Regions from separate parts of the Homo sapiens genome. Here region 1 is linked to region 2. Evidence: fine-mapped expression QTL. A gene starts in region 2. The other region holds a variant in brackets. All regions are shown on one strand. Distances are between the middles of the regions. Region 1 overlaps PCDH1 (protocadherin 1). Region 2 holds the start of PCDH1 (protocadherin 1).

Region 1 (8,319 bases), 28 kb before region 2:
AATTCTGTTTCATCCAGGATCTGTAATGGCAGATTCTGGAGGGGCCCTAACCTGCCCCGCCTGCCCAAGAGGACTAGGAACCCCAGAACCCACTGGGAAAATAGCGGGCTGAGACCTGTCCTGAAACTGGGAGGGGGGTTGGGGGCAGCTATAGAACAGGTGGAAGATTAAGCTGGACAGATGGGCTGACTGATGAAGCCCACATCTCCCCAATATTACTCCAGGGGATGGGGTTGGAGGGGAAGGGGTTTGGCCCAGCAGGATGGAAACTCCCCTCCATTTTTTTCTTTTTTCTTGAGACCGAGATTCAATCTTGTTGCCCAGACAGGAGTGCAATGGTGTGATCTCGGCTCACCGCAACTTCCGCCTCCCAGGTTCAAGCGATTCTCCTGCCTCAGCCTCCCGAGTAGCTGGGATTACTGGCATGCGCCACCATGCTCGGCTAATTTTTTTGTTTGTTTGTTTGTTTGTTTTGAGACGGAGTCTCGCTCTGTCACCCAGGCTGGAGTGCAGTGGCGCAATCTCGGCTTACTGCAAGCTCCGCCTTCCGGGTTCACGCCATTCTCCTGCCTCAGCCTCCCGAGTAGCTGGGACCACAGGCGCCCGCCACCAAGCCTGGCTAATTTTTTTGTATTTTTAATAGAGACGGGGTTTCACCATGTTAGCCAGGATGGTCTTGATCTCCTGACCTCGTGATCCGCCCGCATCGGCCTCCCAAAGTGCTGGGATTACAGGCGTGAGCCACCGCACCCGGCTGTATTTTTTTTTTTAGTAGAGACGAGGTTTTTCCATGTTGATCAGGCTGGTCTCGAACTGCCCGCCTCAGCCTCCGAAAGTGCTGAGATTACAGGCGTGAGCCACCACACCCGGCCAACTCCCCTCCATTTCTACTCACTTTGCCCAGAAGGTTAGAAGAAAAGAAACCCAGGTAACTGCCCTGAGGAATCTTAGCATCTTAGAGTACTGTGGCTATGCTCTTTTCTCCCACTTCAGGGCCTTTGAAGGCAATTTCCCTGCAGTTTCCTTGTATCTGGAATGTTCTTTGCCAAGCTCTAAAACTTCAGGGTTATTTTTTTTTTTCTCTTTTTTGAGACAGGGTCTCACCTTGTTGCCCAGGCTGGAGTACACTGGCCAACCTTCAGGTTTCCTCAGGGAAGCTTCCCTGGCTGGGTAAAGCAGCCCCCTCCCCTCCCCCACCTCCAGTTATCCTCCTTCTTGTCCCACTGTTTGTTTCCTTCACAGCACTTTAACACAATCTATAATTATCTCATTTATTTGTTTATTGTCTGTCTTTTCCTCTAGAATGCAAGTTCCCAGAGAGAGAGAGTAGGCATCATGCCTGTCTTATTCAGCACCATAATGCTAGCACCTGAGACAGTGCCTGCCACTTAGTAGGTGTTAGACGTGTGATAAATAAAAAAGTGGACAAATTATCTCATTGAAGCCCCACAATAACCTTTGGTGATGGTAAGCACTATTATCCCCACCTTACAGAGGAAGAAACTGAGGCTCAGCCACCTACCCAAGGTCATGCCACTAGAAATAAGTACAGCCAAATTTCTAACGTAGGTCTCTCTGACTCCAAGTTTGATGGAAAGTGGGGACCATTCTTTTGTTTGTTTTCCGAGATGGAGTCTTGCTCTGCTGTCCAGGCTAGAGTGCAGTGGCACAATCTCGGCTCACTGCAACCTCTGCCTCCCGGGTTCAAATGATTCTCCTGCCTCAGCCTCCCAAGTAGCTGGGATTACAGGTGCGCACCACCGTGCCCAGCTAATTTTGATATTTTTAGTAGAGATGGGGTTTCCCCATGTTGGCCAGGCTGGTTTCGAACTCCTGACCTCGTGATCAGCCCACCTCGGCCTCCCAAAGTGCTGGGATTACAGGTGTGAGCCACCGCGACCAGCCAGGGACCATTCTTAACCAGCCTAAACTGCACCTGGTTCCTCTTCCTGTCTGCCTGTGTATCTCCACTCCCAACCCAGGCATCCCCAGAGAAACCTGGGGCAGGGAAGGGAGGAACACAGAATCTGGAAGAATGTAAATCTGACCTTTTCTTTTACAGGCTTAAAATCTGTAAATGGCTCCTCTCCAACCCCTCAATCCAAGCACTTTAAGTTGACCAGCAGGTCCTTAGTTCTGGCCCCTGCCTTCTTCTCCAACTTCTCCTGCCCTCCTGAGCCACCTCACCTCCTCCTCCACCTCCAGACCCTGGCACATACTCCTCCTCAGCCTGCAAGGCTGACCCCTTCCTCAGTAGCCTATCCCTCATTTGCCCTTTGAAACTCAGCTCTGGCACCACCCCTTCCAGAAAGCCTCTAGACTTTGGAGAGGACAGCGCCTTTAGGTCTCCTGCCAGAATTTCCGGCTCAAGGCAGGGCCGAACACAAGATGTGGTCATTGTTTACCTGTCTGCCTTTCCCACAGAGACTGTGTGTCATTCTTGGGGTCCAGTACCCTGTGCCGGTCTGGCACATGGGAGGGGCTCAGGAAATGTTTGTAGAATGAGTTAATCAACCAGTGACAGGATTCTGGTACCCAGTCGGCCACCACATCTCCTCCAACTTCCTTAACTCCAGACATCTTTTCCTGGGCTAGGCCTTAACAGAAGGAACTCCTCACCCTTCACTGTGGGGTCAAGTCAGGGGTGGAGACAATGCGGGCCCCTCCCCCGCTGATTCAGCGCCTCTCCTAATGAGGTGAGGCCTCAGGTTTAGGAAGGGTTGCCACACCCACTGGTAGGGGGAGGGTCTGTGATTCTGTAACTGGAGGATAGGTAGGGGGCTTCGGTTGTAGACTGAGTAGGGAGCTGACCTAAGCCGGTAGATTCAAGTACTGCCCGAGAGATCTCTGCCTTTCCGCCCCACACCCCAGTCACCCCGCGCCAGGCTCTCGGCGCGTCAGATCCCGGCCCTGCGTTCTTCATCTCCTGCCCCGCCACGCCCCCAACTGCAGATCCAACTCGGGTCTCTCCGAAAGCAGCAAGGAGCCTCGGGGTGGGCTCTATGCCCCGTGATGCTCCGCGTCTGGGAACGGATGAAGGGGTGCCAGCAACCCCCGCCGTCCCCGCTGTCGATCCGGGTTTACACGAGGCTCATCCGGGATTAGTCCCTGCGGTCGGCTAATCCCAGCGGCTGGACCGACCCCGGGGTCCGGAGCGAGGCCCACACAGTACCGGCCTAGGGAGCTAGGGCGCGGGTCGAGCAAAAGCGCGCGACGCTGGGCGGGTGTGGGGGTGGGGAGGGGCGGAGGAGGGAGCAACGCCCCGGGAGGCGGGGCCAGGAACCGGCTGATCCGGTCTCTGTTTTCCGACCTCTCCGGAGCGGGTGTTTACCCGGGAGCCGGACGGAGGAGGCCGGGGCCGGTCGAGCCCGGAAGGGGGGAGGGGAGCGCAGTCGGAGACCGAGGCTGAGACCTTTTCGGTTCCTTTCCCCTAAATCGACTTCCAACCCTCGTTCCTGAGCGTGGGAGAACGCGGCAGACAGACAGATGTCTCCCGCCCCTTATCCTATCCAGTTCCGCAATTCACACTCGTTGCCAAAGAGTGGGGAGCGGGAATGGATACACCCGGGAACGACTGCACGTCCTG[C/G]GGGCGCCCGGGGAAGAAGGCAGCGCAGCACAAAACCTCTCCTGCGGTCACCTCCCACCCCATCCTGCACCTGAGTTCTTGCGGGGAGGGGGTGCCCACAGCAGGTCGGGCCCAGAGGATCCGGCAGGGGTCACTTTGAGGTGTACGGACTAGGAGTCTATCCTCAGAACGCGTCAGCTCGACCCCATCCCCGATTAATACCAGTGCGGGTCTCAGTCTCTTGTCCCTCGCGTCCCCCAGCCCTCTCCAAGGCCTCCAGATTTAGCTCCCACTCTCCACGGGACGCAGGCCCGAGGACCCGGAAGAAGCTGAGTGGGGTCCGGTTTTCACACTTTTATTGTAAAGCTCGGGAATAATTACACGGGTCTTTCATTGACAGCTCAGCAAACAAACCGGAAACGAACCGAACCGGAGGGGGTAGGGGCGGTGCCTGCGCATGCTCGCGGCGGGGTGGGGGGGGGTGGGGGTGGGGGTGGGGGGGTCAGAGAAAGAGAAAGACAGAAAGAGACAGAAATCATTACAAATCAACGGGATTGTGCTCGCAGCGCCAGGGATGGGGTGGGGTGGGGCGGGGCGGGGGCCCTTCCCGGGAGGAGCGAGGCAGTGGGAAGTGGCACGAACCAAGAGAAACACGACCCCAATGTGGGCACCCGACGCGCCCAAAACCCCCCACCCCGACCCCCACCCCCCTACACACGAGAGAGACACGGCCCCCCTCCCCACTAGATAACCCGAGGAGACACAGTCTCCCCTCCCCATGGGCAGACACACCCGCCCGAAACCCCATGGGCGGGACACAGTCCCCCCTCCCAGAGAAGTCCCCAGTGGAGACGCCCCTTAAGAGACTTTCTCATGGCCAACACAAGCCCTCCCAACACCCGGAGACAGCCCCGACCCAGGGAAGAAATGGCTCCAGAGGCCCTACCCTCGGGAGAGAGAGGTATCCCAGGGCTCCTAGGAGAAAAGACAACTCAGAGATGCCCAGCCTCATCCTAAAGTGCTGCAGGGCAGAGAAACCCCCATAGGAGAGATGGGGGTAGGGCCAGAAACATCCCTTCCCAGACGTGTTTCAGAGATAGCCCCCTTCCCTGGGAAGAGAGATGGCCCGAAACTGACTTGCCTTAAGTACTCCCAGGAACCCTGGGAGGAAAACAGGCTCCCCAGAGAGCCTGGGTAATTGGGGGAGACATGCTCCCGTGGTCCTCAGCGGGAACACATGTCCCCCGGAGACTCCCAAGGGGAGAGATAGGGCCTAGAGAGACCCCAGAGGTGAGGGATGCCCAGAGAACTTCCCCCCACCCCGGAATGTGAAACATGCTTCAAGGACCCTAGGAGAGAAATATGTCCCCATATACCCTCCCCCTACGGAGAGACATGCCCTGAAGTAGGGGGATGGGGACCGACTAGGTCCCCTCTGGGAAGACACAGACTGGGTCAGGCTGGGTTTGAGGGGGGCTCTCCTCTGGCCAAATGTCGCCTATTGGTACATAAAACTGTACGCGACACAGGCATTGGGGAGGGGCTTCACAGACCTAGGACCCACAGGGATAGTCCCCAGTGCTGTCGCCAACCCCTGCCCACCTTTGGTTTCATCTCTCCAGTGCCCAGTTGGTGACAGACTCAGTGCCCTGGCCCCAACCAGGGGGCTGGGGGCTCTGTCTTTGCCTGTGGGAAGGGCTTCTCAGCTCTCCCAGCCATCTGGGCCACCCTCTTTCTTCTGGCTTCTCCATTGTGCAAAATGCTCCTCTGCTCTTCTGCTCAGTGCTCAGGGGTCTCTAAGACCAGGGCAAGGTACCCAGGCCACTAGGGGCTTCCAGTGGGAGTCCACTGACCCCAGGAATGCCGCCTGTCTGGACCACCTTCTCCACCAAGCAAATGGGCCTCATACAATCTTCTTGCCCGAATCCTGACCTCCAGGACCCAGGACAATCCTTGAGGCCACTGTTCCACCAGCTGGGCACCCAATACTACCAACTCCAAGACTATTGCACCTGCCCCATTTGTGCAGGGGAAAGGGGCTGTCTCTTTAACAAGCCCCAAGCCCATCTCCTGGGCCTCCCCAAGGGAAAGGAGCCTTTGGCCAACCCCTAGACCTGGCTGCTGCCACCCCATCCCATTCTACCCCTTCCCCTCTGTAGAAGGGCTTCGTATGCCAGGGCTACCAGCCTAACAATGCTCTCCTTCCTAGCACTGTCACCCCAAGCCAAGTTGGGGGTAAGGGGCAGATAAATAGGGTGATTCTTCAGGCCCCTGGCTTTTCCGGGGTGGGGGTGGGGTCTCTGGGGTACAAGAGTCAAGACCCCAGCAGCACAGCTCCCAAAGGCACCAGACGACCCCGCAGCCTGTACCCACCGCTCGCAATCTTGGACCACCTCCCCAAGCTTAGACTAAGTCAAGCAAGGGCCATACCCTGAGTCTCCAGCCTCCCAGCCTGGGCCCCTAGGGAGCTGGAGAGGTATGGGCCAAGGCAGTGGGGGTTTCTGGAAGGAAGAGGGGCTGAGGCTTTGAGATGGCCACAGTGGGAGACGGGGGCTCTGCAGGACGCCCCTTACACCCTGGCCCCCTGAGGTGAAGAAGAGAACTTCACCTCATCATGGCTGACTGGGCTTCTCTGCCCCCCAACCTCCCTACCCCCTCCCCCATGGGACCCCTGACCCTGACAAAGGGAAGCCCAACTGGAAGAAGGGGGCCTGGAGCCCAGGGTGCCCTGAGGCAGCCCTCCCACCCCCTGAGATCAAGGCAATGGTGGTTTTACAGGCTGACGGGTCAGTCATGGCAGGGGCTGGGGGTTGAGAGGGCAGGGAGGGGGCAGGATGCAGGCCCCCTATATCGGGAGCAGCACCCAGCCACCCCCTGAGCAAACCTTCCTGCTCCCAACTCACCCAACCAGGCCAGAGGCACAGTCATCCCACCCCTGTCCAGCTGCCCCCCACAGCCTCAGGGCCCCTCTGTGATGCTCATCTGGATGTGGGAGGCCAGCCTGAGCGGGGATCCCCCCAGGGCACAGCGCAACAGTTCCAAAAAAATAGAGATTTGTATTTTTAAGAAAAATTAAATAAAAGCCCAGCTCTGCTGATAGGCAAATGTTACCCCCGTCCCCACCCCCACCCACCCGTTGTTTCCCTGGCCTGCACCCCCATCCCACCATGGCCCCAGGGGTATTTACAACATGGAACAATAGAGGCCTGGGTTGGGGGGCACTGCGGCAGGGAGGAGGGGGCACAGGGCAGGTCCCCCCCCAGAGGGGTCCCCCAAGACAACACGACATCAACAAGAAAAGTTGCAAATCAGGCAGAAATGGGGACGTCATTCCAAGGTCCTTATATACAGACACTGCATGACCAGCAGGGAATGGGGGCCCAGATGGGACTAGGCGTGGGCATGTGGCAGGCAGGTGGGCCAGTCCAGGAGCAGCACGGGAAAACAAGGCCTCCGCTCCACTCCCACCCCCGTCCCTACCCCACCTTTGGTAACAAAAGCCCTTCAGGGAGCCACTGGTGGTCAAGAGTTTCCTCTGGGAGCTCCCAGGGAAAGGGGCTCCCCAGTTCAGCCCTGCTTCAGGGCTAAAATTGGGCATGCTATCCCCGCCCTGGTCGGCCATGAGGGAAACAATGAGTTAGAAGTACGCTGCCCACCCTTGACTCCACCATCTGCCCAAATCGAGGGGGTGCTCCCTGGAAGTCAAGGGAAGGAGCCCAGTCATTGCAGAGGAGCCCTCTTGGGCATCAGATGGGGGAAGCCCCATAAAGGGGAAGGGGCCCCTGGGGGCTGGGAGATGGAAATGAGGGGAGAGGACCTGGACCCTGCATGGGAGAAGGGCCAGCGTGGTCATGAGGTCAGTGATACCCCCACTTGGGGCCCTGGCCAGGAAGTCCACGCTGAAGGGGTGGAGAGTGAGGCCCTGGAATGGGCCATTTGGGAGCTGGCCGGCGGCTGGGGGAGGGGGGCCGGCCGGCCAGTAGGGGGCTCACAGGTAGATCTCGCGCTTGGCCGTCTGGGCAGATGCCGGTGTGGCTGCGGGTGGGAAGTCCGAGGTCTGGGTCAGGGGGATTTCCTCCAAGGTGGCCGAGTCCTTGCAGGAATCATGGCTACTGTGGGAGAAGGCACTGTAGGAGGGCAGGAGGCGCACGGGGGCCGTTTTGGTGTTCCGGTCTTCCGGGGGGCTGGGGCTGCCGGCGCCCGCAGGCTCCTGCCCTCCTCGGTCCTGGTAAGGCACGAAGGTGGAGAGTTTGAGGGCGCTGCTCTTGGTCCGGCGGCTGGGAGATGACTGGCCAGGCATCCAGCATGTGTCAGAGTGGCCAAACTCACTGCACTCCCGGGTACATGTGCCTGTCATGGCGACATCAGGCAAAGGGCGAAGGTCTGTAGGAGGGAGCGGGGAAGGACAATTGTCAGACATACAGCCTCTGCAAAGCTCTGCTTCATGGCCTCCCACTGGCATCTACACCCCACCTCAGGACAGGAGTATGCGCCCCTTCCTGACCGCTGAACTCACAGGCACACACACCCTCAAAGAGACACATGCCCTCCCACCATCGACCTACTGGCCTACTGTACACACGCACACGCACACACACATAATCTATCTTTTTTCTTTTTCTTTTTCTTTGTTTTGAGATGGAGTCTTGCTCTTGTCACCCAGGCTGGAGTGCAATGGCGCAATCTCGGCTTACTGCAACCTCCACCTCCCGGGTTCAAGCAATTCTTTTGCCTCAGCCTCCCGAGTAGCTGGG
Region 2 (8,319 bases):
ACTCCCCACCCTCACCCCAGCACTGTTACACAACGGTCACTGCCGCGGGCACAAAACACCAAGGGACAAACGGACTGTCGCGGGGAGAGGGGAAGAAAATGGGGTTGCGTGGGGTGGAGCTGAACAGAAGCCTCCCACAGAGAGCAAGTGTGCAGACCTCAGCTCCTCTCCCCTCTCTCCCACAACCCTCTATTAGCCTCTGCAGGGCTTCTGGGCACCTGCATGTCAGATCGTTGGGGTTAGAACCCTCGCTCCACCACTTCCTAGCTGTGTGACATTAACCAAGTGAATTTACTTTTCTGAACCTGTTTCCATACTGTGAAATGGAAATAATGAAACCTGCCTCTTGAAATTATTTGGGAGAATTAAATGAGATCTCATGCCTATAAGGTCTATTACATTAAGGTCTATTTACATTACATGTAAAGGACAAATCATTTTTTTTTCTAAGTCTTCTAATTGCTGAATAGACCATTTTATTTCCAGCATCGGGCACACAGTGGGTGCTCCTTGGTTCGATGAATAAACAAGCCAATCCCCTCGCTGGTTGGTAAGTCCTATGAAGGCAATGATGGTATGTCTCTTACTACTGCATCCTCACCACCCACCATGGACCCTGGCAGATAAAAGGTGCTCAATACATTGTTGAACAGAATCTCTGCACCAACTATCCTTGCTCACGGCAGGGGCAGCCCTCACCTTCTTCTTTCCCTACACCCCTCCCCGAACCCTGATTCCCACTTAGCTCCTCCCCCACCCTCGCGGCCCCCTCCTGGCCCTTCAACCCCCTTCTCAGCAATTAGCTTACTATCGCTTGCCCAGCTCCCCTGCAGAAGTAGCCACAGCAGCAGCCCCTCTGCTAAGAAGATGGCAGACCAGCAAGACACCCACTTCCAGCTGAAGTCCCTTTTGGAATTGGGAATTGGAGGTGGGTAGGAGAAGGGGTAAAAACTAAATGCGGCCAGAACTGAATCCAGACTTGCCTCCCTATCACACTGCCTCTGGCTACCTCTGGGGGCCAGTCTGCCTCTCCCCTCGATTCCACCCCATGCCCTAGTCTAGTTGTAATTACAGGTTCCAATTCCCCCAGACCTTAACGTCAATAAAGTAACACCCACCTACTCCCGCGCCCCCCACCCCCTACAAACACAGCTAGACCTCCGGCTTGTCATAAAAACTTTCTGGGCGGCCCCTTCCCTGGCAGCTCCCGAGGGTTGACCCAGAGCAGGTGCTAGAAGCCTCGCGGCGTCTTCCTGCACGAAGCGACCCAAGCAGCCCCAGTCCGCACCGCCTTGGTCAGCGGGCGCTCCCAGCACACACCCAGCGCGCGGAGCGACTCCTCCCAGAGGACGCCGAGTGTGTGTGTGTGTTGCGGAGATTAGGGGGTGGCGGGGGGGACGGCGGCAGTTTCTTGGGCTCTGGCGGCCCCACCCCCACCCCGGCAGCGCCCAGCCTCCAGGAACCCAAGGCAAGGCTAGGGCGCGGCGTGGTGAGAACGCGCTTCGGCTAGTGGGGGGAGCCCTTGCGCCCCCCGCACCCAGGCCACCGCGGGGAATCCCTCCTCCCCGGCATCTCCGGCCTCGGCCTAGGGTCCCCCGCAAGCCGGAGCCGGCGCGAGCGGCGCAGCGGGCGCCAGGAGGGGGCGGGGAGGGAGCCGGCGCCGGAATCACAAAGCCGCGAACCCGGCTAGGCGGGGACATTCTCATAAAACCGACCCTCTCGTGGCGAGCAGAGGGGGTTTTTTGCCCTACGCTCAATCCTCCAAGGCCTCAGTGCCGCCCCCAGTCTTTCCTGGCAGAAGAAATAGTAGCCGACCACTGTTGGGGAAACTGAGGCCAGAATTCTGACTTACAGAGGGTAGCTGGGGGGAAGGGGTGCGAGACCACCTCGCCTACAAATTCTGCTCCTATGCCTGCCGCGATCTCCGTTCTGGCTCCAGGGCCTGCCCGCGCACACACTGGCCTACAGCGGGGACCAGGCGGAGGGGGCGCTCAGGTGTGAGACGAACCCAGGTGTGCGGGACCCACCAAGGTGTGTGGGACCCAGGTGTGCTGGAGACCCAGGTGGCTCAGAAAACTCAGCTAAATGGCTGGAAGAGGGTCGCAATCACCGTCCCAGGCTAGCACCCTCTACAAAGGAACCTGGGGCCCCAGAGCTCCGGGGAGGCGGGATGGCTTGGCCAGCCAGGTCCAGCTTGTTCCCGGAACACCAGCCGGTTCGGCCCGGGAGTGGGGGTTGGGGAGGCGCCGACTGGGAAGCCGGCAGGCCGGCCCAGCCTTCCCGCTGTGCCGATATTTACAATAATAATGTCGCGATTAACGTGGCGGGGCGCTTGGGGCTCGCCGAACGACCCCGGCGGCTTCTCCTGCCTGAATCTGGACTCCGAGAGAGAGGAACGGAGTGTGTGTGTTTGTGTGTATGCGCTGCAGGGTGTAATGTAATGTGACACTGTTGGTTTAAGGTGTGTGTGACACCCAGTGTTAAGATGGGTGAAGCAGTGGATTCTGTGTTTGTGACCGTGAGGCGCTGCTGTAGGTGCCAATTCCTGTGTTAGAGTGTGTGCCATCAAGCGTGTGCTGAGATACTGGGTTGTGTGTTTGTGTGGGTGCAGTAGAGGGGTGCAAGGAGACCTGTGCTGTGTACCTATGTTCTGGCCAAGAAGTGGGTAAGATGATATATGCTAGGGTGTGTTCCTTAAAGGAATGTGGGGGGTGGCTAGGTTTTGAGGGTTCATCTAGTGAACTGTGGCTGTGACACTCGTACATGAGGGCACGAGATTGTGTTTGTGTGTCCACGTCGCGGGGTGTCACACCCGGTTGTGTTATTGCTCTGTAAAGCCACGGGTTGTGTGTCGGTGCTGCTGATCGTGCAGACACTGAAGCGGATTCTGAGCTGGCGACGGTGCCCCAGTGGGCGCTGGTGTGCGGGAGGTATGTCTGTGTGCACATATGCAGGGATGTATGTATGTGTGTATATATGTCCACGGTCTGGCCCTCTGGGTGCCCGCGAGAAGCTGGAAGCGGCTGAGTGAGCCGAGGTAGTTGCCCAACAAGTGTGTATGTATGTGTTGTGGACAACGGTCCTTGCTTGCTCCGTCCTCCGGGAGACCCCCACCAAACTGGGGGCCGCGCGCTTCCCCAAACCCATCCTCCACGCCGCGCGCTCCTGGAGTCTCCTTATCCCCGTCTCTCCGAGCGCGCCCAGGTTTGGGACGCGGGGACTAGGGTTCTGCTCAGCACCCCCTCCCCTCCCTCGGCTTCTCGCCGCGGACCTGGGAGGACGGAATCCCTCAGCCGCATCCCCTGCTATGGGCTCCCAGCAGCCCCCACCTCAGCCCCCTCGCGCCGAGCTCGTGTTGGGCCCCCGCGGCCTCGCTCCGCCGAGCGCCCCTCCCTCAGCTCCCGCCGGCCATGACCGCTTCGGGCCCCAAGCCGCTGCTGCCTCCACCGCCGCCGGATCCTTACCCGCCTCCGGGCAGCGCCGGCCGCCCGCCCCGCTGTCCATGAGCCGCCGCCGGCCCCGGCCTGGGCTGCGGCTCCGCACGGCTGGGGCTGGAGCTGCAGTTCGGGCTCCGGCTCCGGCTCCGGCTGGCTCTGGGCGCAGCAGCCCGGCGGCTTTGCGTCCGCGCCGCGCTCCCGCTCCCCGAGTGTGTGAGGCGGCGGCGGCGGCGGCGGCGGCGGCGGCGGCGGCGGCGGAGCCAGCAGAGAGCGGAGCGCACAGCCCGGCCCGCCCCCTCCCTCCCCCCTCCCTCCCGGCCCGCCCGCCTCCCCGCCCCCCCTCCGGCCGGGAGGTGGAGCTCGGGACCGCTCCGGTCCGGCTGGGAGGGGACCCCGAGCACCGCTCCCCAAAGCCTGGACCCCTCCCTCTGCCATCTCTTCACTGCCCGAGGCCCAGTACACAGGCCGTGCCCTCCTCTGAGCTTCACCTTACACTTATCCCACCCAAGCCTCCATCTAGGACCGCTCCTGGATTCCCCTCCTTACCCTACTCAAACACCTGTCCCCAGCTCTGTCTGCCCCCTGGGAAGTCGAGGCAAGGGAAGTGTCTCCCACAGCGCCTTCTTCCCTGGGCACCTGCTCCTCCATATCCACCCTCTTCCCGCCCAGATCCCCGATCGCCCTGTGTGGCCCTCCCTTCCCGCTGCGCTCGGGGAAAGTCCACCCCTCCCCCTCCGGCCGAAGCCGCAGAGCGGTCAGCCTCGGTGGCCGCAGCAAGCCGTGGGGGTGGGGCTATGGAGGGGACCGTGGGAGGAGGAGGCTAATGGGACCCGGGGGCTCTAGAGTGAGGATGGGGAAGATACACAAGCGTGAAGACGAAGTGCTGCTCCTGAGCTTAGGCTATTCGAGGGTCCCCTGATCACCTGCCCTCTGCACGGCGTAGTGCTGCGGCCACACGTATTTGCCAGTGACTTACATTATACAGTCACCGGGTCCCTGCCCCGCGAGGCCGCGCAGTGTCACGGCCTGTGTCACACGCCCTCGCAGTGCCACACGCTCCCTATCACACTCACACCAAATCACACACGGTGTCACACGCAGTGTCTCACACACTCCAATACTCGGTTTCTCCCATTCAGCTCTGGCTCTCTGGCGCCATCTAGAGGTCTCTGAGTAGCTTGGGAACTCCCTCTCCTGCGCTTGCGGTTTGGTAACCCAGGCTACCAAGTGTCCCAGTTCAACAGGACCTCCTGCCTTCTTCGCCTGCAGGCCCAGGCAGAGTGTTCTAGGTCAAAAGAATGAGGAAGGTTATCCCTAGCCAGGCCTAGTGCTGGGTGAGGAAAGGCTCTTGTTATGGGATGACCAGTTGTTGGGCCTCTTTTTGCCATAGCCTCTGACTCCCCATCTCTGTCCTTCCCCATTTTCCTGTTCCTACCACTCTTCTGTGCCTTTCCTCTTTCTTCTACTTCCTTCTCTTCTCAGCTCTGGCCTCTCTCGGTGGGATGCTCTTCAGGGTAAAAGTGGAATCTCTGGTTAGCTAAGAGGGCAAGCAAAGTCTGTCCAAGATCTCTCCCAGAGCAGCCCTGCTTAACTGGACTCCTTTTCTGACCTGGGCTCTGCTCTATCCCTCAGCCCCAGGAGCCCAGGGGCAGGGCTCTAGATGGGAGATGGGGTAATCTGGTGAAAGAGGGGGGTGGGTCTGTTCTGTAAGTAGCTTCTTTCTGTCTCTAGAAAGCTCATACTCTCCACATCATTGAGCACAGCTCCGAGGAGGGAATCAGTGGCCCAGAGAGAAGAAATCTTCCACAGAAGAGCTGCCCCGGTCTCCCTGCCCCCAGCGTGTGCCCGCTGCCCAATGCAGCAAACCCTCCCCAGTCTGCTTGCTGGGAGCCATTCAAAGGCTCCTCTGTTCTCCTCCCTTGCTCAGGGCTGAGCAGGATCAGCAGCCGCAGAGCTGGGCAGGAAATGCTAATCTCCCAGATGTTCGCCTCCATCCTCCCTGCTCCACCACCATCAAACTCAAATTCTGCACCAAGTGGTAGGAGCAGAACTGGGCCACAGCAGCAGCACCAGGGTGTGCCTACTCTTCTCCCTGCTCCCCAGCCCCTCCTACCCCAGCTGCCAGGCTGGGCTCTGTGCCCCTGAGTCAGGGACAATGTAGATATGAGAATTGGGGCCTTTTTTCCCCAGGAAAGAGGGCAGGTGAGCAAGCAGGGACTGGGAGGATGGTTGGGGAGCAAGGGAGGTGGCATTTGAAGAGGAGAGAAGTCAGACTTCTGGCCCTGTACCAAAGTGGGAGGAGGACCTGCTTGGCAAGTGAAGCACTGGGGGAGGCTCCTGAAACTGATGGTGCCTGAGTTCCAGCTGAGACTGTGGCCAGGGATTGGAACCAGGGTGATGCTGGGTATGGGAATGGTTGGGGTGCTTGCTGTGATATCCGTGTACCTGGGATGGGCTGTGGCTAAGTGAACTAGGATGCTGTAGGGCCTGGAACTGTAACACCAAGGCTGCTGCCTCTGATTGTACTTAGGACACTGTTGCAGTGCTCTGATGCTGGTGTGCCTAGGCTATAGCCAATAAGATTACCTGAGAAACTATCGCCAAGCTGTGTGTATATGGGTGTGTGTGTGCATGTTGAGGGAGAACTGTAACTGATAAGCTGTTGGGCCTGAAGCTATAGATATGAGGCTGGCACACCTGAGACTGGCTGTAGCTGAGAAGCTGTTCCCTGTTAATATGATGTAGATGGGACTGTAACTGGATCCATTGCCTAGGTCCTAGGAGATGAGAGGCTGTTGCGAGGAGCCTGTACCTGGGAGACAGGCTGTTACCTGGGATAGGAGCAGAGCTACTGTTGTGTATAGGACTGTAGCTGAGCTGCTATTGGTCCTGGAGCTGTAGCTGTGATGACAGCATACTGGGGATTGGCTATAGCTAAGATGCTGTTGCTCAGAATTGTGGTTGGGCTGTTACTGTGTGCTGGACTCTAGCTGGGATGCCTGCAGCTATAACTTTAAAGCTTGGGTGTAGCTAGGAGGCCATTTCCTGGTAATTTTGCTGGACCATTGTTGTGTGGGGGCTGTGGCTGAGACTCTATTGTTTAGGAGATGACAAGCTGTTCTGGGAGGCAGGATACTACCTGAGATGGAAGCTGATGTACTGTTGGAGCTGATCTACTGTTGTGCATAGGGTGGTCCCCAAGTGGCTGTTGCTGGGTCAGTGACGAGCTGGGTGGGGGAAGCCAAGTGAGTCCTGCCTTGAGGTCTGGGAGATGCCAGGAGCTCTAGGCTGGGTGGGGGCTGCTGCTCTGGGGAGGCCTCAGCAGCTGCTCTGCTGTGGAGCTGGAAAGCCTGTTTTCATTACTGTTTTAACTCTTTTTTTAACCTTGTTTTTCTCTCGGCTGCACTTTCGCTCACTCATTAATTTTGGTATTTTTCTCACGGTGCCTCAGCCCCTGTCACGGCTGCCATGGCAACAGGAGGCAGTGTGCTCAGTGCCAAAATATCTGATCAAAAAATAACCAAAATAAGCAAACACCAAGACGACTGTTCTGGGGACTATGGTCAGGGAGAGCCGATGGCTCAGATCCAGGAAACCCTAGGCTCCAGGGTACCTGTTTCACTACCCCTCTCCCCCAGGGAAGCTTTGCTGAACGTTCTGATAACCTAGAAGGCCCCTTTCCAAGGAATCCCCCACAGCACAATCTCCCAGGACTCTGAGATTTCCAATAGTTCCTGTCCAAGGGGCAGCTTTGCCTGAGGTGGGAGCATCGGGAGAGGGTGAGGGCTGGGGATCACTTCCCAGGAGCTGGCAGATGAAGCTTCTAAGAAGCTCCCTCCCTGCCCTAGCCACAAGCATCCGCACTCACTCATTCACCCACCCCTCTTCTGGCCCTTCTTGCCTTAGGCTTATCTCCCTTTCTGTGCACCCAACCCCCACTAGGCCACTTTTGTTTTCTCATAGCCCAACGTTCTGATGGGATGAACAGAGGGGAGGAAGCTGACAGTCTCCAGCCCCCTACCAACTCCTCAGTGGAGGTGCCAGAGAGGGGTACCATAAAAGTAGCTGACATTCCGAGGCCTCTGCCCACCTCTAGCTCACCTTCCTAGGGGAGATTCCTGAACATCCCTGACCACTCACACCGCACTCCAATTTTCCCTCCCACTTCTTGGGAGCCTTCTAGTTCCCTGGAGACCTCCTCTCAAGTGGGCATGTCCCCAGGAGGGGTAAAAGGATAGAGCCTCACATAAGTTAGAAATGGGCAGAGCTCTTGGTACTACCTGTCTCTTTTCCTTCTTCATCCACCACTTTCCCCTCTGAGGAGGCTTGTCTAGATGTCTGGAGCACTGGGAATTGGGGGAATGAGGAGGAGCCCCTCAACTCTGTCTCAGTCACATCACTTAATCACACCTCTCCTTCTGCCCCACCCCTCTGGCAGTGAAGGCTCACTCCCAACAGATCTCCACCCGCTTCCGGGAATGGCCAGAACTCGCCTCCTGCGTCTCTCTTTCCATTTCTATCTTCCCCTCCCCCCAAGAGCTGTAGTGGCCTTGGCCTCCTGGCAGTGCCTTCCCAGCCTGTTTCCATAGAAACTGGGTAGGCTGTGCAGTGCAAGAATCGGAGGGGAGACAGGAGCAGGAAGGAGGGACCAAGCCTTAGGGACAGCCCCCGATGAAAGGACCGAGAGAAACGGGGAGCTGCCCCATGCAAACTGAGGGTGGGACCCCGATTTGGGGAACCAGGCGGGATGGAGCGTGGAGTGGGGGGAAGAGGTAGCAAAAGCTTGGTAGCTGGCTTTGCTGCCTCCTGAGGAAGGGGCACAGAATCTCCCCTTCCCTGCCACAGGTAGTGGGGGTTCCTCCCTCCCCACCCCCTTAAAATC

The links.
Region 1: its variant is fine-mapped to the expression of PCDH1 in whole blood (INTERVAL, PIP above 0.99).

The regions. Positions count from the first base shown.
Region 1 is chr5:141,846,489-141,854,807 of GRCh38, forward strand. PCDH1 (protocadherin 1) reads right to left here. Exons shown (of 5, transcript NM_032420.5): 5 at 6,602-7,948. The coding sequence ends at 7,554. Among named protein-coding and RNA genes, the nearest start is that of PCDH1, 28 kb to the right of the region's middle. RefSeq lists enhancers at 288-1,109, 1,866-2,422, 2,538-2,627, 2,981-3,537 and a silencer at 3,188-3,437. The variant C/G (reference allele first, on the strand shown) is at 3,587.
Region 2 is chr5:141,874,759-141,883,077 of GRCh38, forward strand. PCDH1 (protocadherin 1) reads right to left here and starts at 3,652. Exons shown (of 5, transcript NM_032420.5): 1 at 3,465-3,652. The coding sequence starts at 3,504. RefSeq lists enhancers at 1,950-2,634, 2,901-3,650, 7,680-8,319.